Linked DNA regions of Homo sapiens. The protein of the gene in region 2 purifies or fractionates together with the protein of the main gene of each other region. This does not show direct contact. Each region holds a gene or a part of one and is shown on either strand. Other genes may lie near its edges.

What was found.
Region 1: the proteins of UGGT1 (region 2) and ZNF546 purify together in Homo sapiens (co-immunoprecipitation; one large-scale study listed by IntAct). This does not show direct contact.
Region 3: the proteins of UGGT1 (region 2) and LTN1 purify together in Homo sapiens (affinity purification with mass spectrometry; one large-scale study listed by BioGRID and IntAct). This does not show direct contact.
Region 4: the proteins of UGGT1 (region 2) and IARS2 purify together in Homo sapiens (affinity purification with mass spectrometry; one large-scale study listed by BioGRID and IntAct). This does not show direct contact.
Region 5: the proteins of UGGT1 (region 2) and NUDCD1 purify together in Homo sapiens (co-immunoprecipitation; one large-scale study listed by IntAct). This does not show direct contact.
Region 6: the proteins of UGGT1 (region 2) and DPF2 purify together in Homo sapiens (affinity purification with mass spectrometry; one large-scale study listed by BioGRID and IntAct). This does not show direct contact.
Region 7: the proteins of UGGT1 (region 2) and TMPRSS13 purify together in Homo sapiens (co-immunoprecipitation; one large-scale study listed by IntAct). This does not show direct contact.

What each region holds. Positions count from the first base shown.
Region 1 is NC_000019.10:39,995,834-39,999,859, forward strand, and holds the start of ZNF546 (zinc finger protein 546), read left to right. Parts: upstream 1-1,226; 5' UTR 1,227-1,324; intron 1,325-2,027; 5' UTR 2,028-2,082; intron 2,083-2,414; 5' UTR 2,415-2,493; coding exon 2,494-2,577; intron 2,578-4,026. UniProt on the Homo sapiens protein: May be involved in transcriptional regulation.
Region 2 is NC_000002.12:128,181,700-128,185,199, forward strand, and holds part of UGGT1 (UDP-glucose:glycoprotein glucosyltransferase 1 precursor), read left to right. Parts: intron 1-430; coding exon 431-591; intron 592-1,975; coding exon 1,976-2,090; intron 2,091-3,500. UniProt on the Homo sapiens protein: Recognizes glycoproteins with minor folding defects. Reglucosylates single N-glycans near the misfolded part of the protein, thus providing quality control for protein folding in the endoplasmic reticulum.
Region 3 is NC_000021.9:28,954,878-28,958,377, reverse strand, and holds part of LTN1 (E3 ubiquitin-protein ligase listerin), read left to right. Parts: intron 1-901; coding exon 902-1,046; intron 1,047-1,429; coding exon 1,430-1,616; intron 1,617-3,500.
Region 4 is NC_000001.11:220,139,132-220,142,631, forward strand, and holds part of IARS2 (isoleucine--tRNA ligase, mitochondrial precursor), read left to right. Parts: coding exon 1-8; intron 9-1,051; coding exon 1,052-1,158; intron 1,159-2,671; coding exon 2,672-2,817; intron 2,818-3,500.
Region 5 is NC_000008.11:109,275,088-109,278,587, reverse strand, and holds part of NUDCD1 (nudC domain-containing protein 1), read left to right. Parts: intron 1-3,091; coding exon 3,092-3,236; intron 3,237-3,500.
Region 6 is NC_000011.10:65,340,352-65,343,851, forward strand, and holds part of DPF2 (zinc finger protein ubi-d4), read left to right. Parts: intron 1-33; coding exon 34-194; intron 195-614; coding exon 615-722; intron 723-1,047; coding exon 1,048-1,211; intron 1,212-3,393; coding exon 3,394-3,486; intron 3,487-3,500. UniProt on the Homo sapiens protein: Plays an active role in transcriptional regulation by binding modified histones H3 and H4. Is a negative regulator of myeloid differentiation of hematopoietic progenitor cells. Might also have a role in the development and maturation of lymphoid cells.
Region 7 is NC_000011.10:117,908,903-117,912,402, forward strand, and holds part of TMPRSS13 (transmembrane protease serine 13), read right to left. Parts: intron 2,959-3,500; coding exon 2,866-2,958; intron 1,849-2,865; coding exon 1,805-1,848; intron 1,067-1,804; coding exon 904-1,066; intron 1-903. UniProt on the Homo sapiens protein: Serine protease. Cleaves the proform of PRSS8/prostasin to form the active protein. Cleaves the proform of HGF to form the active protein which promotes MAPK signaling.

The DNA.
Region 1 (4,026 bases), on a different chromosome or scaffold from region 2:
TATTTTGATGCTCAAACCATGTCAAGTTTGGTCAGTGGAAGTCCCTTCAATCTGGTTTCCATGTCCTTTGAACACGTCCCCACCATTCTTTGAGCACTGCCTTACTTTCAAGCACAAGATGTTCCAAGTTCATTCTGAACTTTCCCTTCCCCAGCTCTGGAATCTGCCATTTCTCCATGGAGCCTTGCTCCTTTCAGTGGAGCATGGTATTTAGGAACCAAGGGCTGACTGCCTAATGTGCTTTCCAAGTATAATTTCCTCAGTCCAAGCTTTTCAAATTGATCTGCCAAAGACCCATTGCCAAAGATCCATTGCCAGAATATAAGAGTGGAAGGAAATTCTTAATATTTTTTGAAAGTTACTATTATTTTCATTTTTCTCTTTGTAAAAAATTCATTTAATTCAATATAAAAAGACAAAAATCTTTGGCACATAAATCGCAACTCTCTGATGCAAATGTTTAAATAAAGCTGATACTCCAAGAAGACGCAACATATTCTCTTTATCCCACAGACATATAGGCCTATGGTTGCAAACTTTTATACACACACAGAGTCACAATTCCACTGGCACCCGTGATGTTCCACATCCAGATTTTCCAAATCACACATTCTCATCTTCACATAGCCTTGCCGGCAACCACACGGCATAGTACCACATTGTTACGTCAAGCACAGCCAGTCTACCACAGAGCCTGTCGTCCCATTGACCAAAGTCACAAAAATCACAGCCCCGGGTATTTACTGTGGTTTTCTCCAGTCAGATCCCTTCACTCACTACACACTGACTCACACTCAAATTACACACACGCGGAAACACAACCCGCCAGAGCCAGAGAGGTTCCGTCGGTCCCGCAACCCTCACAGTGCCACACACACGCGCTCACAAGGCAAATACAAATGGCCAGGCACTCATTCTTTACAATACACATATTAAGCGCCTATTATGTACTACACGCCGGGACTACCTCAAGAGGTGAAACAAACAAAATCCTGCCTGGCGGAGCTATCGCCCAGTCCCGCACGCACTCGGCCTCAGGGTCACACTCGGCGGTCCCACGCTCAAGTGGCCCGGCCAGTGGCCCAGAGGCGTCTGTTCTCCTCCTCAGCTTCCTGCGTGGGTTCCTGGTAAGTGAGTCGAACCCGCCGGATGCGCGCGCGCCTGCGCCTCCGCCCAAAAGGATCAGTTTCCGGCTGTGGACTACATTTCCCAGAAGCCCCTTGGGCAGTGTTGCCTGGACCCCAAGGGCCCTTTACATTGCGTTCTTAACGGTTCAGTCACCTTAACCGTTATTATTCACTTGCGGGCGAGAAGTCCGAGCTAGGTGAGGCGGAACGGGACTCTTACGAGTAGGACTGGGGATAGAACTGCCGCCCAAAGTGAGGCGCTCCAGGGCCCAGACCTGGCGTGTCGTGCCCGCAGGGAGCCTCAGGCCTGTGCGTGCTTGGGGAGCGGAGAAGGGAAATTGTGTGACAAAATGTGGCAGACGGTGTATGTGTGTGTGTGCGCGCGACGGGGCGCCTGTCAGGACCGGGTTGGGCGGGTGTGGGTGCGGGTGTGAGGCTGAGACAGGTGCCTGGCTCTCTGGTGTGTGTCACTGACCCTCTACCCTCCTCACGGCCTCGGTGTTTGCACACAGCAGTGTCCCCAAGAGGGAAGTCAAATATCGAGCTCTGGGATGAAGGTTCCCAGCAAGAAGGTACAGACCTGGGTTGGCGATTGGACTTTTGAATTAGAAGTGTCCCTAAAACAGACTCCTGGGACGACAGGTTGGAAGACTGCGCAGTTGGAGCCGCTGTGTGGGCAGCTGCATGTTTCAGAACCACTGCATTCCCATACCTTTGATCTAGAAACCTGGTGTGAGTTCAGAGACAGATCCCAGCCTCACTCTCACACAGCTGTTATGTGCGTGAGGTCAGCACAGATGTGGCGCTGGAGGGGATATTCTAGGTCGGTCTGTGCTCTTAAGAAAGGCCTGCTGTCTCATGATTATTTTTCTTCCCCCATTCTGCTATTCATCAAAACAGGGATCCTGAAAAGGAGGGAACAATTGTTGTAGCAGGTCTAAAAGTTCAGGTCCAGGTAAGTTTATATTTCCTTTTTATTCATAAAATGGAAATCACACATTCTAATCCTCACACAGCCTTGCCTGCACCCAGTCATACGGCGTGGTACCACACTGCTATGTCAAGCACAGCCACAATCTACCACAGAGCCTGTCACCTCATTGCTCACAGTCACAAAAATCACATCCCCAGGTACTTTCTGTAGCTTTCATTTGCATTTTTCCCTTTGAAGAAGTTCATTTGATTCAATCTAAAAAGACTAAATTATTTGTCACATAAATTGCAACTCTCTGGTCTATATCTTTAAGTAAATCTTTAAATAAATGCATAAAATGTTTTTGTTTTTAGGAAATGGAAACATTGCTTTGCTTTTCCTGAATTGTCCAGTGACCTATCCCAGGCCTTCCTTTCCAGTGAACAATGGACCATGCAGGTGGACCCTCCTCTTCACGGGCCTCCAAATGACTTTCTCATTTTTCAAATCATTCCTCTGCACTCACTTTCTATAATGGTAGAGAAATGCATATCCTGGAGTCTAAAGTTAAAACTTTGTTTTATTGAGATTAATGTTTAGGTAGAATCACATCATCCATCTTCTCCAATCTTCTCCAAAGACCTCAGTTTTAAAATATGACAGGATTAGAGATGACCTGACTAGTGTCAGTAAGCAAGTGATAATGGTCGCCTGCTTTTAAGGCTTTTAGAAGTGGGAATGTGATTGGAAGTCCAAGCATAGAAATCTGTGTGAACATGAGCAGGGATTTTTTTCCAAGGAATCCATGAGTTGAGATTTATTTTTATACAGAGTTAGTCATAAGAATAAAAAGTACATATGAGTAAAGTAATAGTCATAGTGATGAAGAATAATACGCAATTTTTTTTTCTTTTTTTGAGAAGGAGTCTCGCTGTGTCACCCAGGCTGGAGTGCAATGGCATGAACTCGGCTTACTGCAGCCTCTGCCTCCTGGGTTCAAGTGATTCTCCTGCCTCAGCCTCCCAGGTAGCTGGGATTACAGGCGCCTGCCACCATGCCTGGCTAATTTTTGTATTTTTAGTCGAGACAGGGTTTCACCACGTTGGCCACGCTGGTCTGGAACTCCTGACCTCAGGTGATTCACTTGCCTTGGCCTCCCAAAGTGCTGGGATTACAGGCATGAACCACCGCACCCAGCCGCAAATTTTAAATTTTATATGAATCTCACTAATATTAGGATTTAAAGACATTTAACAAGCATTATATCTAAATTAACATTTCAACTGATTATTTGCTGGAGAAGTAGAGGAGAACCAAACACTCTTCTGTCTGCTTTGTTCAAATTTTCTTATTCAGTCTGCAGACACTGTTCACCTGGCTTGTGTATTAAGAGAAGAATCTTAACAGTGAAAAGGTCTTGTTGAATTGAAGAAGAATGTTCAAGAACTGGCAGGCATTTATTTATAATGGTCATGCTGTTTTCCTATTGTTTGCATACATGTCAAACCAATTTGCTTCTGATGTGTTAAAACATTTTATTTTATAATTGGATATAGATCTATTGTATACTTCTGGTTATAGAATTAATATTCACCTTTTATAAATTATTTAGTTACTCATTATATTACATAAGGCACTTATAAAGAAGAAAGTTAAAATAGCCCCAGCATCACTATTAACACTTTGGGGAGCTATATTTTAGCAAGATTTTTTTTTTTTTTTGACAGAGTCTCGTTCTGTTGCCCAGGCTGGAGTGCAGTGATGTGATCTTGGCTTACTGCAACCTCCATCTCCCAGGTTCAAGAAATTCTCCTGCCTCAGCCTCCCGAGTAGCTGGGATTACAGGCGCCTGCTACCACGCCCAGCTAATTTTTTGTATTTTTAATAGAGATGGGGTTTCGCCATGTTGGCCAAGCTGGTCTCAAACTCCTGACCTCAGGTGATCCACCCACCTCGGCCTCCCAAAGTGCTGGGATTACAGGTGTG
Region 2 (3,500 bases):
AAGTGTGCCTTCCTGATTGTAACATAGCCACATTTAATCCTTGTTGAGTACTTACGATGGGCAAGGCATTATTCTACATCTGTCCATCCATATGTTAACTTACATAATCCTCCCAGCAACCCTGTGAGATAGGTACTGTCATTATCATTATCTCCATTTTACAGATGAAGAAACTGAGGCACAGAAAGGCTAAGCAGTTGAAATTTGTTTTATTCCTACTCCCACACACCTTGCTAAGAAGTGTCTTACATGTTAGTGAGTCAACCAGGTAATAAGTGGAGCAATCAAAGTGCATCTGCCCCTAGTGCCTGTGCCACTAACCACGGAGCAGCCTTCCATGCTGCCTTAAGCGAGCCACTCTGTATCTGAAGGAAACCGCATTAGAGCTGTCTGCATGGTTGCTTAACAAATGACTTTTTATATTCTCCAGATTGTACGAACAGATCTGAAAGAGTTAAGAGATTTCAATTTGGATGGTGCTCCTTATGGTTACACTCCTTTCTGTGACAGCCGAAGAGAAATGGACGGCTACAGGTTCTGGAAGTCAGGGTACTGGGCCAGTCATTTAGCCGGGCGAAAGTATCATATCAGGTACTGAAAAGAAGCACTCCTAACACTGTTACGGGGTTTTCCTTAAAATTGATTTTGTGTGGTTAAAATTGTGAATAGGTAATACATTGGTATGGTTGAAAAATAAAAATGATAAAAAATACACAGTGGCTGGGTGCAGTGGCTCATGCCTTAATCCCAGCACTTTGGGATGCCAAGGCAGGTGGATCACCTGAGGTCAGGATTTCAAGACCAGCCTGGCCAACATGGCGAAACCCCGTCTCTACTAAAAATACAAAAATTAGCTGGGCATGGTGGTGGGCGCCTGTAATCCCAGCTACTCGGGAGGCTAAGGCAGGAGAATTGCTTGAACCCAGGAGGCGGAGGTTGCAGTGAGCTGAGATCACGCCGCTGCACTCCAGCCTGGATGACAGAGTGAGATTCCATCTCAAAAAAAAAAAAAAATACAGTGTAAAAAAAACTTCCTAATCCTGTCTCTCTCTTTCCTACTCAGTTCCTGTTCTCACAGCAGATAACCTCCCAACTTATTGACTGTCTATCCTTCCAGATTTTCTTAATTCTTACAGAAACAGCTGTGAATGTGTATTCTTTTTTTTTTTACACAAAATATGCTACCTATTTATACATTTTGTAACTTGGCTTTTTTTTTTTTTTTTTTACTTAATGTCATATACATCTTCTCAGTGAATAGAGAGAGACCTGATTCCTTTTCATAGCTGCATATTATTCCAGTGTGTGAGTGTTATTTATAGTTTTCCCTGTGACCTACAATGTTGCAATGAATAATCTACTAAATAATTTTTCATATCTCATATATTTGTGAGATAAATTCCTAGACGTAGACCTTTTAGGTCGAACAGTGTGTGTGTTGTTACATTTCTAATGAGCACCCCATTCTCTTCTCTGCGAGAAGTGTGATTTGAAGATGTGCAGGGAAGAGGAACGTGTAGGAAGCGGCACATGCAGAGATCACTGCTGGGGTTTAGTGATGGTGGCTTCATTCTTTACATTCCTGGTCCAAAAGAACTGTAAGGACTGTAACACTCTGGGGTTTTCCCCCCCCTGTAACATTGAAGACATCATCAGGATATCATTGAATAATGGTTGTTTATCAGTTACTATGGCTTTTGTTACTGCCGCATATGCTAGAAATCTTTGGTCTGAGATTATTTCTTTCGGATGGCAAATACAGAACAGTAACAAAAGCATAGCACAGTATAGATTTTGCAGTGACTTTCTTAGAGATCTTTAAAGTAGCACACTTTAACTCCACTGTAGGGCTGTAGCATACCTTTTCAAAGAAAAGCCAGAATATTTGGCTAGTGGCCTGTTCCATTATTCATTGGGTTTAGTTTTCCTGTCGTAATCCATGGTTGGTTGTAACAAGCGGGTCTTCTTTATTCAGTGCACTATATGTTGTGGATCTGAAGAAGTTTAGGAAAATAGCTGCTGGTGACAGACTCAGGGGACAGTACCAAGGTCTGAGTCAGGACCCTAACAGCCTTTCAAATCTTGATCAAGTAAGTGTCCATTTTTTATGGTTAACTGTGAGTGACGGGTATACAGTGTTGCATCAGAAAATGAAGTATTACTTGTGTCTTCAGTCCTCTCCTCACAGGATGGCGTCTTGTTTTTTCATGGTGTGTGTGTGTGTGTGTGTGTGTGTGTGAGAGAGAGAGAGAGAGAGAGAGATTTTTATCTGCCCTCAAGACATATCAGCGTGAAAAATGTCATAGATTTGATGCTGGCTGGGGAGAGAGATGGAAGGAGAATGCTGCCTCTCTGAACCATTAGCATATCTTTGTATTTTGTACTCAAACTAATCTCATAGGTTTGTTTCTCTACCTACTAGGGTCAGTTTGTTTTTCTGCTGTAGGAACTAAATAGCTCAGGATTCGTAGTATAGAATCACAGTATAGTATCACAGCTTCCCCTTTTTCTATGTCAGAAACCATGATGTGTTTCAAGGCTAGCTAAATTACTGTTTGTTAATGTTAAGCATTTTTCAGAGGTGAGATTGTAGTTTAAGGGTTTTGGATACATATTTCACATATTTTAAGCATTTTATTTTGCTTAAGTCTACTTAAATGTTTTTAAACCTTTATTGTGATATGTAGCATCCATAAAGAAAAGTATACAAAAAACATACATACATATTCACATACATCCAGGAATTATTATGAAGCAAATACCCAGATACCACAACCTAGTTCAAGAACTAGAACATTATCAGCATCCCAGAAGCCATCCTTCCTCCCTAACAAAAGTGTCTAGCATCACGACTTTTATGGTAATCATTTTTGTTTCTTTATAGATTTACTGTTTAAGCATGTATCCATAAACACTAGTTTAATTTGCTCATTTTCTTCTCCTCTATCTCAATGGAATAATAAAAGGTAAACTTTTTTGTTTGTTTGTTTGTTTTGAGACAGAATCTCACTCTGTTTCCCAGGCTGGAGTGCAGTGGCATGCTCTGGGTTGCACTCACTGCAACCTCCACCTCCCGGGTTCAAGTGATCCTCCTGCCTCAGCCTCCTGAGTAACTAGGATTACAGGCACGCACCACCACTCCTGGCTAATTTTTGTATTTTCAGTAGAGACAGGGTTTCACCATGTTGGCCAGGCTGGTCTCAAACTCCTGACCTCAAGTGATCCACCCGCTTTGGCCTCCCAAAGTGCCGGGATTACAATCACGAGCCACAGTGCCCGGCTCTACTTACTTTAAAATTTGTGTGATACCTGGTATCTTCTAATTTATGGAGCTACTATGGATCTGATTCTGTTGTATTATTTCTGTTATTCTTTTGTTCATACTGTCTATCACATATTTGTTTATCTTCTGTAGTGTGTCAGGCGTTGTTTTTGCAGAATTATTTTGGGGAATAATTTGAGTTCAAAAATGGTATCACCCAACAGTATTTGTTTCTCTC
Region 3 (3,500 bases), on a different chromosome or scaffold from region 2:
TTTTGAGCTTGGTTTCAGTGTCTCTTTTATACTTGAACAGTGTCCTTAAATTAGATTCCATGATCAGTGTGAGTGCCTATGAAAAATGACTTGTAGGGCTCGTCCCTATAATCCCAGCTACTCAGTAGGCTGAGGTGGGAGGATCAGTTGAGACCTCCAGGAGTTTGAGACCAGCCTGAGCAACATAGTGAGATGCCATCTCTTAAAAAAAAGAGAAATGAAAAGTGACTTGTTAGGTAACAAATCTACAGGACTCTTATGAAAAGACCCAAACGAATTTTTCCAAAACCATTTTGTTTCAATGACCATCCATTTAAACTGCCAGTTAATTGAAGGATAATTTGCTATAACATACCTGCTGGACTCATAACTTATAGACAGTAAAGTGATGGTGATACTATCCTTTGTCATAGGCTGGTGTGCATTGTAGCCTCTCATGGTCACCACATGTACTGATTGTTCTTGGTTATTTATTTTTTGGGGACAGGTAGGCAGTGTTTTAAGATGTTGAATTGCAAGTATATTTTACCTCTCATACCTAAATCCATATAATAAAGGAGAAGAGAGAATGCATTTAGAGGATATTGGGTTTAGGTAAAATAGTGCTGCATTTCATAAGGTAGCTGTATTTCTGAAATACCTGGTCTGAAATAGGTCAGGTCCTCTTCATTCTGAGATAGATAGGAAGCAACACTAGATTTCAAATGATAAATATTGGATTACCTCCCCAGTTTGACTGTTATGTTGGTGTGTCATCGGTGGGGGAATGTCACTTACCTCTTTTTATTTTCATCATTTCTTTTTGTTCAGGTGAGCTATTATAGGGTATTTAATATGTATTGGGGTATTCAAACTAGTCATAGCGTAACTACAACAGTTAAGTTCTCTGCATTATTTTTAGTCTCCAAGTCCTCTTGTCTGCTGTTGATGATTTGCTAAATACACTTCTAGAGAGTGAAGATTCTTATCTTATGGGAGTTTATATTGGAAGTGTAATGCCGAACGACAGTGAATGGGAAAAGATGAGGCAGTCTCTTCCTATGCAGGTATTTTGGAAATTGAAGAGTACATATCTCATTCTGAAGTTTGGATTTCATGCAAGCTTGAATATTTTTATTTTGGGGAAGAAAAACATAAATAAAATGAGTATTTTGCTTTGCTTTGATGTCTTTGTATGCTCATATACTGGATGTTTGCTTTTTGCAAGACACCATTTGACAGTGGCAGTGGGCATGGTACAAAGACTTAGGACCTAGTTCTGTACTTAAGGAGTCTTAAAGAAATACACATGTTGATAATTTCCTGTAAAAGAAAACAAACTTCTAGGTTTCTGTGGTTTTGGTAATAAATATTCTCACAACTTCATTTTTGTTCAGTCTCAATTGCTTAGGTAATAAATAATTTTGTATATAACGTATTCTTTTCACAGTGGTTACATAGACCTCTTTTAGAGGGAAGATTGAGTTTGAATTATGAATGTTTCAAAACAGATTTTAAGGAACAGGACATAAAGACACTTCCCAGCCATTTGTGTACTTCAGCATTATTGAGCAAAATGGTCTTAATTGCACTGAGAAAGGAAACAGTCTTAGAAAATAATGAGCTTGAGAAAATAAGTAAGTATATATGAGTATTTACATATAACATAATGCATGAATGAATATAATTTTGAAATAATCTTGATTATACTGCAGTTTAAATCTTTAATTCAAGAATCTTCAGCTTTCTTTTTCCTATTTTAATGATGAGAACCTTGAAGTTACTTAAGTGGTGAATGTGAAATTGCAAATTAGATACGAATATATTGGAATCTTGCTATAATCTTGTTAACTGTGGATCGTAATTTGGTGTTAGCTACTCAGGCTGTCATGACATCAATGTAAACAGATCCTGTGGCACATACCCTAAAGAAAATGGGTGAGGCTTTGGTGTTTTATCAAGGATTCAGAATTTTCTGTTGATTAAAAAAAAATTGATACCTGATAATTTTACATATTTATGGGGTACATGTGATATTTTGATATATACATAGAATGTGTAGTGATCAAATCAGGCTAAGCAGGATATCCATCACCTCAAACATTTATCATTTCTTTGTGTTGAGAACATTTCAAATCTTCTAGTTATTTTGCAATATAAATCATTGTTAACTATGGTCATCCTACTGTGTTATTGAATACTAGGTCATATATCTTCTCTCTCACTGTATTTTGGTACCCATTCACCGACCTCTCTTCATCCCCTGCTCTCCCTGACCCTTCTCAGGGTAACCATCAGTCTACTATACTATTCTATCTTCATGAGATCCACTTTTTTAGCTCCCATATACAAATTAGAACATGTGATGTTTGTCTTTCCGTGCATGGTTTATTTCATTTAGCATGATGATGTCCAGTTTCATCCATGTTGCTGCAAATGACAGTATTTCATTCCTTTTTTTTTTTTTTTTTTTTTTGAGACAGAGTCTCGCTCTGTTGCCCAGGCTTGAGTGCAGTGGCGCAATCTCGGCTCACCACAACCTCTGCTTCCCAGGTTCAAGTGATTCTCCTGCCTCAACCTCCCAAGTAGATGGGACTACAGGCGCACACCACCATGCCCAGCTAATTTTTGTATTTTTGGTAGAGACGGGGTTTCACTATGTTGGCCAGGCTGGTCTTGAACTCCTGACCTCGTGATCCGCCCGTCTCAGCCTCCCAAAGTGCTGGGATTATAGAAGTGAGCTACCGTGCCTGGCCTCATTCTTTTTTTAATGGCTGAATAGTATTCCATTGTGCATATGTACCACATTTTATATATCCATTCATTCACTGATGGACACTTAGGTTGATTTCATATCTCAGCTATTGTGAATAGTGCTGCAGCAAATATAGGGGTGCAGATATACCTTTGATATACTGGTTTTCTAAATATTCAATGGGATTGCTGGATTGTGTGATAGTTCTATTTTTAGTTTTTTGAAATACTTCCATATCGTTTTCCAAAATGGCTGTACTAATTTGCATTCCTACCAATAGTATATAAGTTCCTATTTCTCTGCATTCTTGCCAGCATTTGTTATTTTTTGTCTTTGTTTTTTTAGAGATGGGGTGTTACTATGTTGCCCAGACAGGTCTTTATCCTGGGCTCAAGCAATCCTCTTGCCTCAGCCTCCCAAAGTGCTGCGATTACAAGCAGTGCCACCATTCCCAGCTTATTTCTTACCTTTTTGACAAGAGGCATTCTAACTGGGGTTTTGATTTGCATTTCCCTGATGATTACTAATATTGAGCATGGGATTTTTTTTTCCTTTCTTGCCGTTGAGTTGTTTGAGTTCCTTATATATTCCTTATGTTAGCCCCTTGTTGGATGAATAGTTTGCAAATATTTTCTCCCATTCTACAGATTGTCTCTTCACTTTGTTGATTGTTTCTTTTGCTGTGCAGAAAGCTTTTAGTTTAACATAGTCCTATTTGCCTGTTTTTGTTGCCTTCGCTTTTGAAGTCTTAGCCATAAAAATATTT
Region 4 (3,500 bases), on a different chromosome or scaffold from region 2:
CAAACAAGGTAAATGTAAATTAATAAACTTTTGGAAACTAGAAATATCAGCACTATTGTAGGTTAAAATTTTAGTTTTATCTGAGTGGAACAGACCTTGCTGGAAATAGTAACTATAGCACTCTTGAAGAGAAATATGTCCAGACTTCCCCTCGGACCAGATTTTTCTCTCATGATTAGCTCTATTTTTCCAACAAGAAGGAATAAAGTGGAGTTATACTTTATCTGCACATGTGCTCCTCATAATAAAGTACAGAAATAACCAAAATGGACTATCCTATTTGTCTCATAAGATACTTACTCATTTTCATATAGACTTAAATAATTTCTGTTTTCTGGCTGGGTGTGGAAACTCACACCTATAAATCCTACTACTTTGGGAGGCCGAGGTGGGAGGATTGCTTGAGGCCAGGTGTTCAAGACCAGCCTGGGCAACAGAGCAGGAACCTATCTCTAGAAAAATTTTAAAAATTAGCCAGGCGTGTTAGCCAGTGCATGTAGTCCCAGCTCCTTGGGAGGCTGAGGCAGGAGAATCGCTTGAGCCCATGGTTTTGAGGCTGCAGTGAGCTGTGATTGTGCCACTGCACTCCAGCCTGGTTGACAGAGTGAGACCCTGTCTTAAAAAAAAAAAATTGTGTTTTCTCATAATTGGAAATGTGTTTGCATTAGTGTACCCTTAAGTCAGAGGTGTACATACCAATTTTGCCCAAATCAAAAATAAATGAGGCATAAATGAAGGAACACTAATGAATTGTTGGTGACGTCCACTGTTTGCTGTTGTTAAAATGGTGTGATTTTGTTATTTACAATCTCATTCTTTCCTTAATTAATGTCCTTTCGTAGTTCTCAGAGTAAAATAGTATTTTCTGAGTGTAGTCAAATGTGTTATCCAGAAATGACATTTGGAAGATTCCCAGGAGTTCTTGCATATTGCCTGTTTTGTATTTGTCTCATTGAAACATATTTTTGAAAGGAGCATATTTTGCTTGTGATGACTTACATTTTCATTTGCCTGTCTCAGCTTCCAAATTTATTTTGGCTTTGTTCCCTAGATTACCGAATTATACAAACAATATGATTTTGGAAAAGTTGTTCGGCTGTTACGGACGTTTTATACCAGAGAGCTCTCTAACTTTTATTTCAGTATAATCAAAGATAGGTATGTATGACTAAATATTAAAATGCTTAACAATGGCCAGGTGTGGTGACTCACGCCTGTAATCCCAGCACTTTGGGAGGCCGAGGCGGGTGGATGACATGAGGCCAGGAGTTCGAGACCAGTATGGCAAAATACAAAAATTAGCCGGGCATGGTGGCACATGCCTGTAATCCGAGTCACTCAGGAGACTGAGGCACGAGAATCGCTTGAACTTGGGAGGCGGAGGTTGCAATGAGCAGAGATTGTGCTGCTGCACTCCAGCCTGGGTGACAGAGCAAGATCTCGTCTCAAAAAATAACAACAACAAAACCTCAACAAGTATTTTTTGAGTGTCTACTTGTGTTTGGCAACCGTCAGGGATACAGTGATGAGCAAGATGGGCAGTGTTGTGCAGTTATTAAGATTGGGTTCCGGGCCAGGCGTGGTGCCTCACGCCTGTAATCCCAGCACTTTGGGAGGCCGAGGCGGGCGGATCACGAGGTCAGGAGATCGAGACCATCCTGGCTAACACAGTGAAACCCCGTCTCTACTAAAAATACAAAAAATTAGCTGGGCGTGGTGGCGGGTGCCTGTAGTTCCAGCTACTTGGGAGGCTGAGGCAGGAGAATGGCGTGAACCCGGGAGGCAGAGCTTGCAGTGAGCCGAGATCGTGACACTGCACTTCAGCCTGGGCGACAGAGCAAGACTCCGTCTCAAAAAAAAAAAAAAAAAAAGATTGGGTTCCGGAGTCAAGTCTGAGTATAAAGGTTTGACCTCCCGCTTACTAGCTTTCTGATTTGGGGCAACTTATTCTGTAATCTGTTTCTTCATCTGTAAAATGGGTATAATAATACTTACCTCGTGATTGAGAAGGAAAAGCAATAATGTGCTTAAAGCTGTGCTTGATAAAGTGTTCAAAAAATCATCACTACTAATATCAGACGATGAACATAATGCTTGTTCTCAGGAGTTCTCAAATCCTGAGGGGAAGAGAGAGATATATATGTGCAATTATATGGTAACAGTGTATAATATTAGCAGTATCCTTGTAGAAGAGGCCTTGATGCCAAGTCTTCATCTGTTGCTCCAGTGTGCAGGTGACGGTCCTACCTTCATGGTAATGAGTCCAGTCTGAGGCGTTATCCTCAGCCTGTCAGCACCCCAAGGACCTTGCACATAGGGATTATAACTCCTACTCCTTCCCTTAAAACACTAATAACATTGGAGTGGGTGGGAGCCACATGTTAAATACCATCAACTAACTTATTCATAGTCCTTTAATACAGTAGTCTAGACTCTAGTTGTCATCCACCTGAGAAACAGAATGAGATAGCGTAGCCATGAGTGCTTTCAAGGAGGTGGGTACACCTGGACGGAGTAAAATTGTAGGAGAGTGTATTGTATTCTTTAAGTAGAAGATGATTAGAGCCATAGGATTAGCCACTAGGAATAAACTCAACCTGAGGCAGGTCCCATCTAGGTGACCATAATGTATAAAGTATTGTCAACTGCTGAATAAGTTGTTCTTGTTCAGGCTCTATTGTGAAAAGGAAAATGACCCCAAACGACGCTCTTGTCAGACTGCATTAGTTGAAATTTTGGATGTAATAGTTCGTTCTTTTGCTCCCATTCTTCCTCACCTGGCTGAAGAGGTGTTCCAGCACATACCTTATATTAAAGGTAAGGAATACTTCATTTATTCTCTTAATGAGAAATATCCCTGATCAAGGTGCAACTTCTACTTCTATCTGCTTCATAAAAGGGGCACTTATCCATTTACAGTGACTGCTGTGTGACACAGTGTGTCTTGGTCATGTATTTGTTTCTGCACCTATTTGTAGAGGAGTAGGGTAAATTTCAGAATTCTGTGCTTTCTGAAATGTATTAGCAGCTTGACAGTGTCGAGAAATCACCTTTTTTCTTAAATACCTTTATAACTGTTCTGAAATGGCTGGCATGGTGGCTCACACCTGTAATCCCAGCACTTTGGGAGGCCGAGGTGGGCAGATCACTTGAGGTCAGGAGTTCAAAATTAGCCAGGCCAACATGGCGAAACCCCATCTCTACTAAAAATATAAAAATTAGTGGGGCATGGTGGTGGCGGGTGCCTGTAGTCCCAGCTACTTGGGAGGCTAAGGCAGGAGAATTGCTTGAACTCGGGAGGTGGAAGTTGCAGTGAGCCAAGATCATGCCACTGTACTTCAGCCTGGGTGACAGAGCAAGACTGTCAAAAAAAATGTTCTGAAATATATTTTAGGTTGTATTAAAACAAAATATAGTGCTTTTAGTGAGTTTTATGTTAGTTGTTTTCTTCTGATTGTATTAAGTTTATAAAAATTAGAAACTATAGAAGTGTAGGAAGA
Region 5 (3,500 bases), on a different chromosome or scaffold from region 2:
CTTGTTATCTCTAGGGTGTAGGGAGATTGACTGAAGAAAGGCCAAGGGAACTGCCTGTATGGTGGAAATAATTCAGTATCCTCATTGGGTTACAAAGGTGTATGCATTTGTCAAAATCAGTAAATTCTACACTTAAAACCTGTGAATTTTATTTATAAATTACACCTCAATTAAAGGAGCAAAACTGTGTCTTTTTAAAAAAAGATAAAGTTAAGTGTCTTTTAAAATTATAATCCTTTGCCCCCCACAACTGTGCCATTTTGCAAATCTATTATTCCAGGCAGTTTTTTCCCCAATTATTTGGATTACTAAAATTACTTTCTTTTATTTTAAATCAAGTCTTAGTAATTATTAAATTCAGTGATGGATTAATGAATAGAGTTAGGCAGTTAATTTTTTAAATAGTCAAATTTGGTCAGAAATGAGAAATGGTTGATTTAAAATACAACCTAAATCTTGTGCTTTAAGTTGATGTTACATAGAGGATAACTTAGATGTTTTTACACAAAGTATAGTTCTTAATTAGTAGTATATGATCCATGTGAGTCTGATACAAGTCTAAATCATGAGCATCCAAGAAAAATATATCTAGCTCATAGAAAGTTTGAAGTTGTAAAAGGTATCTTACATTTTATTAATGAAGACATTTGGTGATTTTGTTACACTTTTTAATATATCAAAAATAATTGCTTGAAAGTTTCTTTTAAAAGTATTTTGTATCTCCACATACTCCATTTAATTATGTTTATGTGTATGTGAGTCACATTTACAAATTGGCAAGCCAACTAGAACATATTGTTAAATGTAAGTCATCAAGCAGTAACCCAGCAAAGGTCTGGGGGAATAGCTTGACTTCATGTAAGTAGTTTCAGCATTCAATGCATCAACATAGATCAGTATTATTTTTCCATTAAATTTGAGGTGTTTGATTATTATTTTGTGTTAAAAAAGATAACTACAATGTAGCGTAGGTGGTATTGTTGTTTTAAAAACACGATTTTCTGTACTTGAGTAAATTATTCGTACCTCTCGTTTTCAAAAGTTACTGTTGTCTCACTTTGGAAAGATTTTTTTAACTAATCTGTAGTTTATTATATTTGGCATTGTTTGGGGTTTTTTTTTTGCTTGGATGGTAGCATACAATACTAGTTTTAAAACGTACAAATGCAGTCTTAGAAGAAGGGTGCACTGATTAACTGTGCAAATTAATGATGGTTTGGAAATTATAACAGATTGTATCAACTCTTTCAGACCTCTTTAGGTAGCAACTAAGAACAGTTCACTGGGTAAGTGTTCTTTAATAGTTATTTACATATATTTTTTCAGAGAGGCAGAATAGTGCAGTAGTGAAGAACATGGACTTAGAGCCAGACTGTTTAAATAGCTTGTGACCTTGGCAAGTTGCTTAACCTCAGTACTTTTTTTTCTTACTTGTAAAATGGTGATGATAATAATATTTACAGTACTTTATTTGGTTGTTGTAACCAATGAGTTAAAACATGTAAAGTGCTTAAGACAGCACCTGACATATAGGTAAGTATAAGCTATGGTCATTATTACTATTATTATCATCATCATTATTATCAAGATTACCTTTATCCTTAGAAAATGTAACTCAGTCTGGGGGCTGGGCACGGTGGCTCACACCTATAATCCTAGCACTTTGGGAGACCAAGGCAGGCAGATCACTTGAGGCCAGGAGTTTAAGATCAGCCTGGCCAACATGACAAAACCCTGTCTCTACTAAAAATACAAATATTAGCCAGGTGGGCATGATGGCGTGGCCTGTAATCCCAGCTACTTACTTGGGAGGCTGAGGCACGAGAGTCACTTGAACCCGGGAGTTGGAGGTTGCAGTAAGAGAGATTGTGCCATTGCACTGCAGCCTGGGCAAGAGAGTGAGACTCTGTCTCAAAAAAAGAAAAGATGTAACTAAATCTGGGCTTTTATTGTGGGAGTAATTTTCAGTGCTAATTATAAGTACTCATATTATTATTTTGTATAGTCTCTTAAAATAGGTAGTTTCAGAAAAATGTTAAATGCTGTAATTCATAAGGTAGTGATTGTAACAGTCTTGAAAAAGAACAGCTGGTAAGTTTGCGTGTCCTATTTGATAACTATAATAGTTATTATTGTATTCTTGCAGTTGTGTTCCAGGGCATGAGCTAATATGGTACATGTGTACGAAAGATGGCACATGGAAAAGGTTGCTTTGTTGTGGAATAGCTATTACCACTCCCCTTTTCTGTTATAGCAGTGGGTGCTCCCAAAGCATCTTACTTGGGTTTTCCTTCCTATTCCAGAGGAACATGGGACAAGTTACTTCTTCTCCTATGTCCGTAGTCTGCCTTGACTCTGCTCTCTTTCCCTTTCCTGCTGCATCAGTCCTTGATCTCAGGGTTCCCTGACAGACCATTTTAAGTGCATCTGGAATTGTTTAGTTGTTTACATGTACAGAATTAGATTTTAAATAAGTTAATAGAGAACACATTAACATCTTTTTTCCCTGTATTACCAAAGTTAATTTTTTTCCTTATTTCTACTTTTCAGTTATTTAACATCTGTATTTTAAAATTAAGATTTGCGTTGATTTAACCTGCTTGATCTTCAGGTTAATAATCATATATTATGGCTCTTAGTTTGTGAAAATAAAGTTAATTGTTGATTCCAGACACAAAGAATTATCCTTTAATTACAGCCCTTTTACTCTTTGCTTACATGCCCACACCCCCGACCATTCCCCAGATGTCTTATAGATCCATGCTTCTTGTATTTCTATTAAGTTCAGGAACATACTGCATACCAGTACTTTCTGGATGACTTGACTCTTTCCAGGCAATCCTCTCTTCAGGCCATTTGATGTACCATTTCCAGTGGTACTTTCTTTCTTTATTAAATCTGGACTATTTGCCATTGGATTATAGGTTTTCCATCACATGCAAAACTTAAATGAGCAAGATTTTTGGTAAACCATCCTCTGGACACCGGAGGGTTCTTTCTATAGAAGATAGAAACAAACAATGTTTGCTACTGATTGTATAATTTGTATAATTGCTTAATGTAACATTACTTTTCCCATTTAAACTTCTAGCTTGGAGATTTCCTTGATTAAGAAGAATGAAGGACTGACCTGGCCAGAGCTAGTAATTGGAGATAAACAAGGGGAACTTATAAGAGATTCAGCCCAGTGTGCTGCAATAGCTGAACGTTTGATGCATTTGACCTCTGAAGAACTGGTAAGTAGTTGGAATAGTAGTGTGACTTTCCAAGGGTCCAAAAATATGTTATGTGAAGATTATGCCATGCTTTTCAAACAATATTTTGCTTTTCCTAATATAAAAGATACATATCAGATACTACTGATCTGAGTGATGTTTGAATATGGCCTAAGTTCTAATATTTATTTCTTACACTATGTAAATACATACATATATGTGTGGTCATACTGTATAGAGGGTTTGCCTGTATCTGTTTATGTGTGCGTATGTATTGTGCGCTCT
Region 6 (3,500 bases), on a different chromosome or scaffold from region 2:
AACATACACGCCTGATTTCTATCTTCCCTGCAGCCTTGGGGAGCAGTACTACAAAGATGCCATGGAGCAGTGCCACAATTACAATGCTCGCCTCTGTGCTGAGCGCAGCGTGCGCCTGCCTTTCTTGGACTCACAGACCGGAGTAGCCCAGAGCAATTGTTACATCTGGATGGAAAAGCGACACCGGGGTCCAGGTGAGGGTCCAGACTTGGGAGAAGGGGACTCAGGAGCATAAGGAGGAAGAAGCCTCCTCATCTTAGGTGATGAGACAGTTGATAGGGTTTTCCCTACTGCCTTCCACCTATGGATGAATATGGTCTTCCTGTGATTAGAAACCCAGGGAGGATGAAGCAGATGTTTGATACCAGCATCTTTGTTTTCTGCCCTGCTGAGGCCATTGTGTGTCTGGAGAACTATGTGTTAGCCAAGGCCCTGAAGCTTATATATCTATTTTTCTTTTCCACAGACTATTCCACCTAACCCCCTAGGCCCTCACTGTCAGAATTTCTCCCTTGCTCTAGAACTCAAAGGGGGGCCTACTTAATTAGAAAGTGTTTGGTATTACTTTCTAATACTGGGTTAGGGCCTGACTTCTATCTTTCTTCCTGCCACAGGATTGGCCTCCGGACAGCTGTACTCCTACCCTGCCCGGCGCTGGCGGAAAAAGCGGCGAGCCCATCCCCCTGAGGATCCACGACTTTCCTTCCCATCTATTAAGCCAGGTAAGGCACATACTTCCTGAGCAGAGGCGTGGCCTGCTGCATGGTGAGAGCCTGCTAATCACTGTGATATACCAGGCCCAGTACTAGATCCCAAATATACTCAAATGAATATGATGTGATTCTTTCCTTTAAGGACCTCAGTCTAGAAGGGGAGACAGGTAAACAGATAAGTTATGGTGCCAAGTGAACTAGGGTGTCTTAATTCCTGGGCGTGCAGAGAACAAAAGATAGTGACAGACCTTTGGTAAGCCCCAGCATTATGTGGACTCAGAGCAGTCTGCTTTCAGCCCTTTTGAGCCTTGCTTTATCCTGACCTTGCTTGCAGACACAGACCAGACCCTGAAGAAGGAGGGGCTGATCTCTCAGGATGGCAGTAGTTTAGAGGCTCTGTTGCGCACTGACCCCCTGGAGAAGCGAGGTGCCCCGGATCCCCGAGTTGATGATGACAGCCTGGGCGAGTTTCCTGTGACCAACAGTCGAGCGCGAAAGGTACAGGATTATCCCTGTGGCTAAGGGAGCTTTGATGGAAATCAGCCTCCTCTTCACTGGGGGCCACCTAGTTTCTAGAACTGAAACAGAAGCTGGAGTCCAGGAAGCAGGCCCCTGCAGTTCTGTTCTTACTTCAGTCCCTGATTATTGTCAGGTACTGACTGGCTTCTCTGTTGCTTCTAACTATAGACTCTCATTCATTCACTTTTATCACAGAAGGTTATTATTATACACATATATAATTTTCATTAAAAAAATTAAAATAGGCCAGATGCAGTGGCTCATGCCTGTAATCCCAGCACTTTGGGAGGCCAAGGCAGGAGGATTGCTCAAGTCCAGGAGTTCGAGACCAGCCTGGGCAACAAAGTGAGACCCCATCTCTACAAAAAAATAATAATTAAAAAAAAATAGCCAGGCATAGCAGCATGCGCCTGTTGTCCCAGCTACTAGGGAAGCTGAGGTGGGAGAATCACTTGAGCCTATGAGTTCGAGACTGCAATGAGTCATGATCATGCCACTGCACTCCAGCCTGGGCAACAAAAAAAAAAAATTAAAACCAGAAGGTGCAAGAATAGTACAATGAAATACCACATACTCTTTACCTAGATTTATCAATTCCACATTTTGCCACATTTGCCTTATCTGTCTTTGCTAAACTATTTGAGAGGAAACTTCAAAAACTTTTCAGTCTAGGCAACATAGCAGGACCTTGTCTCTACTAAAAATAAAAATAAAAAATTAGCTGGGCATGGTGGCACACGCCTGCAGTCCCAGCTACTCAGGAGGCTGAGGTGGGAGGATTGCTTGAGCCCAGGAGATTGAAGCTGTAGCTCTGCTTATGCCTCTGCACTCCAGCCTGGGTAACAGAGGGAGACCCTGTCTGGGAAGGGAGGGAAACAAACTTTTATCCCTAAGTGCTTTACTCTTTTATCACAAAAGTTTGTGTCACAGTTTTTTGGTCCCTGAGGTTACACAGTGAAGCACACTTAGTCTCTGCCAACAGAGAAGATAAGAATACATGTAAAAATAACAGCTATAAATATGCCAGCATTGGGTTAAGTGCCTTTTCATGCCCTTTCTCCTTTAGTCTGTACAACCTTATGGGGTAGGTCCTGTGTTCCCCATTTCACACAGAGGCTGAAACAAAGCAGTTTAAAAACTTCCCATGGGTCGGGCACGGTAGCTCACGCCTGTAATCCCAGCACTTTGGGAGGCCGAGGCAGGCGGATCTTGAGGTCAGGAGATCGAGACCATCCTGGCTAACATGGTGAAACCCCGTCTCTACTAAAAATACAAAAAAAATTAGCCAGGCGTGGTGGTGGGCACCTGCAGTCCCAGCTACTCAGGCGCAAACCCGGGAGGCAGAGCTTGCAGTGAGCCGAGATTGCGCCACTGCACTCCAGCCTAGGTGACAGAACGAGACTCCATCTCAAAAAAAAAAAAAAAACTTCCCATGGCCGGCCACGGTGGCTGACGCCTGTAATCCCAGCACTTTGGGAGGCCGAGGCAGTTGGATCACCTGAGGTCGGGAGTTCGAGACCAGCCTGACCAAGATGAAGAAACCCCGTCTCTACTAAAAATCCAAAATTAATCAGGTGTGGTGGCGCATGCCTGTAATTCCACCTACTTGGGAGGCTGAGGCAGGAGGATCGCTTGAACCCAGGAGACGGAGGTTGCGGTAAGCCAGTATTGCGCCATTGCACTCCAGCCTGGGCAACAAGAGCGAAACTCTGTCTCAAAAAAAAAAAAAAAAAAAAAAAGCTTCCCACAAGGTCACACAAATAAGCAACAACATTTTAATTTAAACTAGGAGGCGAGTGTCAGGACAGAACCACCAATAATGTGCTCCCAGGGTGGCCAATCAGAGGCAGGAGAGGGCATGGCTGCTTGTGGCATCAGGGCAACCTTTTGGAAGCATGCTATTTGATTTGGCCATGTGGCATGGTGGGGAAAGCATTTCAGGCTAAGGAAATAACGTGAAGCACAGGGGAAAGATATCCCAAAGTATGGAAGGGAGCAGGAGCAGGATTATAGCATGCTTGAAAGGCGTTGGTGAGGAATGAGGCTGGTGTGGGTGGGACCACGTCACAGAGGAGGTTCTGGGTGGCCTTGGCCAGTCTCATCATAGGGGAGCTTTTGGATGCACATATTTCTACCCATGCTAACCCTCCTGTCCACTCAGCGGATCCTAGAACCAGATGACTTCCTGGATGACCTCGATGATGAAGACTATGAAGAAGATACTCCCAAGCGTCGGGGAAAGGGGAAATCCAAGGTGAGGGGCCAGCG
Region 7 (3,500 bases), on a different chromosome or scaffold from region 2:
AATGACCTCTGGAGGGAACCCTCTATCTTATCCCTGGAGTCCAAAGCAATCCCCCACAGCCCCTCAAAAATTATGAGCTTGCAGCTCTGCACCTTACAGTAATAAAGAGGGAAGGATGAGTAAGACCTCTGTGTGGCACTCCCCCCCCACTATCTCCTCTGCAAGTCACCAAGGATCAAATAGGAGACTTTGACTTCTGCCATGCTGAAACTCTGGGGCCTCGATATGAACTGACAGATGCTGACAAGTCACAGGGCTGCAGAAGGTGCTGGGACTAGGGATGGGGACACAGATTCACTCACCAGACAGGGTCAAGGGCTTGTACTGATAAGATCTCAGTATTATTACCCTCAGCAAATTCAGACAGGACAAAGTAACACACTGAACTCATTACTAGGGAGGCCAGTGCCCCTGAGGCCTGGTCCCAGAGCTCTTTCCTGCCCACCAGCCTGGGCTGTGGGCCCCCAAAGACAATAGACCAGCTGGTGACCGTTAGCAGCTGATACAGTGCCCTGCCTGCAATCCCTAACCCTCAATTTCTGGGATAACTAGGGGCTCCTCTGCTATGAGTTCCATTTGCAGGAAGCAGCAACAAACCCAACGCCTTTTTCATTTCACCCTGTTCTTCAGGGGCAGGCTCCCAGTCCCTCTTCCTGCCTGCCTCTCTCCCCCTTGGGGCCGTCAATGGGACTTTCTCATCCTTGGGCCTAGCTCGGAACAAACACCCCCGACCCACACTCTCAGGACCAGGTGAACACCCAAGCTACACCAGTGCCAACTGGCCCATGGGGGCTGGACTCACACCCAGAATCCTCCTCCACGAAGAAGTCAGTCTGCAGCCAGCCCTTCCTGGTGGTTCCCGACCCTGGGCAGTGTCAAATCACCTGCCTCTCAGGCACTTACACGAAGAAGCAGTGGGCGGCAGTGAGCACCCACTGGGCGTCAATGAGCGTGCCTCCACAGATGTGGGTGGTGCCGAAGTGCAGACTCACTTGCCAAGGCCACTTGCTATCCGAGGCCAGCGCCCCTCCCACGATCCGCCCGGTCATGGCCCTCAGTCCGCAGTCTGGAGGGAAGGAGTAGACGTACTGTGAACCCTGTTTCTCCCAGGGTTCTTTCCGAGCTCCTGATCAGGATGCCTCTGCTGTGCTCCCAGGGCCAGGACAGGCTCAGGCAGCCCCATCCTGAAGGGCACCCACCCTTCCATGGACGGGCTTTGCTCCCTTATCTGCTACACACAGCAGTTTCTGTGAGAGCAGAGCCACCACATGGTGGGGTGGCTTTCTGGGATCATTCCGCGGAAAGTTTGACCCCAGGCAGGTTCCTCTTTCTTCTCCTTCACTCATTCTTTCATTGACTTGACAAATCCTTTTGGAGTGTCCCAAGCTTTGGGCACTGTGTTGGGCATTGGGGTCATGATGGTAAGTCCCAGGACTGCCATTAGGTGCACAGGAATGCAGACCAGTTCTAATGTGACCCTGAATTGACAAGCATTATAATGAGGGTCTCTATTGTTTCTAAACATAGGAAGAATACACTTCCCCTGATGCACAGAAGACTCAGACAGCTTCCTTGGAATAAAAGGTTGCTGGGCTGAGCCCCTACCAGAGTCAGGAGAAGGGGAAATGTTACCCTGGGTGTACCGGTGCCTTACAGGGACTCCAGCCCTGAAGCAGGCCTGCTGGCTAAGACACTGTTCCTGACTTGAACCCCTGTGCCAAACACCTCCCTTGGAGGAGTGCTGCCCCTCTGCCCTTTACTCCCACACGACACTGGCCACAATCCAAGAAGAAGAACATCTTACGGGAACACTGGAGAGAGATATACCGCTGGGAAGGGCATTCAGACCTGCAGGGGGAGACACAGAAAGTGGGAAAAGGGCACATTAGCTACCTCCTCCAGGAAGCCTTCCTGATTGACTCCTGCTCAGTTCCTATCCTGTTTCCAAGGAAGCTACCCTTTGTACAGGAAGCAGGAGATTCTGAGCTTCCCCTTTCCCCATGTGACATTGTCCCTTCCAGTGCTTTGTCCAGAATCGGAGTGGCTCAGTGCAAACCATCTCCACTCTCATCCCCTCAACTAGTTTCCTTGTGGCACATTGCAGACATTGGCCCAGATCCATGTTCTTCGAACTTAGGACTTCATTGTCGCAGCATCTTTTCACAACTAAACAGGTGGTCTGGTGCTCCTCTGACACAGTTCCTCAACGCAGATGCAGAAACCACGCAGCACAGAGCTGGCATCCAGCTGCAGCAAATTCACATCCCTTCCCTCACCATTACTTCTCTTGGAGCCTGGCTTCTTCTCTCCCCTCCGTAGGGCAAACAATGCTAGCTGGCAGAGACCCCAAACCTCTGATGCTTCCAACGTGGCCCTCCCTGTCCCTGATGCCTGCACCTGGCGGTCCCCTACTGCTGCCTGTCTACCCTGTCCCCTAACTGCACTGGTGGAGAGAGCAGAGAATGGGCCGAGTAGAGGAGCGGCATGTGCAAAGTGTCATGCCAGGGTGTCAGTGGTGCTTCTCCCCCACCAATCCAGGTCCACTCCCTGCAGCAGCTCTCAGTCCAAACACCTGGCCGACTGGTGGTCCCAAGGTTCATGAATTGCCTCTGACGACCTGATAAACTCTCAGGGGCACCCCTGGTCTCCAGTTGTCCTCAGCACCGAGCCTCAGATAAGAATTCTTAAGTCAGAAGGCAGTTTGGTGAATAAGGACTATTTCCAAGATGCCCCTGAACACTCATGGTGGACTCCTGGAGGCTGGATACTAGAAAAGCCAGTGAAGGGGGCTCCCTGACTCAAAGACCCTCTCCTACCCACTCCTTCCCCTGCTCACAAACAGGCAGCCTGCCTGCCCCACCATACCTGTGGAGGCTTTCCTGGATGGTGGAGTTGTATCTCAAGATTGAGAAGCTGTTGGCAAAATCCCTGTGGGCAACCTCGGTTGTCCGGTGAGCACTACAAGGGAGCAGAGGGGAGAAGAATGAGCCCCCTGGAGACAGAGTCATCCCAAGTCCTCCAGCAGGCTAGAGCCCCACCAGCCCTGCCGACAGAGGCCAGACTGTGATGGTCTGAATGGTGGCCAACTCCTCCAAGCAGCAGCTAAGCCCCAATAAAGTGCAGCCCCACCCACATGCTCCACCACTGCCCCTTATCTCCCCCAACTCCCCTCCAAGATCCCCAGCCCTATGCACTACCCAGCATTTCTCATGGTGGAGACTGGTAGCATTAGCATTGCCTGGGAAGTTATTAATATTAGCAATGCTTCTGAATCAGAAGCTCTGGGTGTGGGCCCAGCGATCACCATTTTAACAGGTTCTCTAGTGATGCTGATGCACACTCAAGTTTGAGAAACACCAATCTTGCCCTTTTCTACCCAAACTGTCATCTGTGAATAAGCAGCAGCAGCAACCCCCCCAGACCTACTGAATAAGAATCTGCATTTTAAAGAATCCCAGGTTACTGATCTGTACATTAAAGCGTGAGAAGCTCTGGGCAAG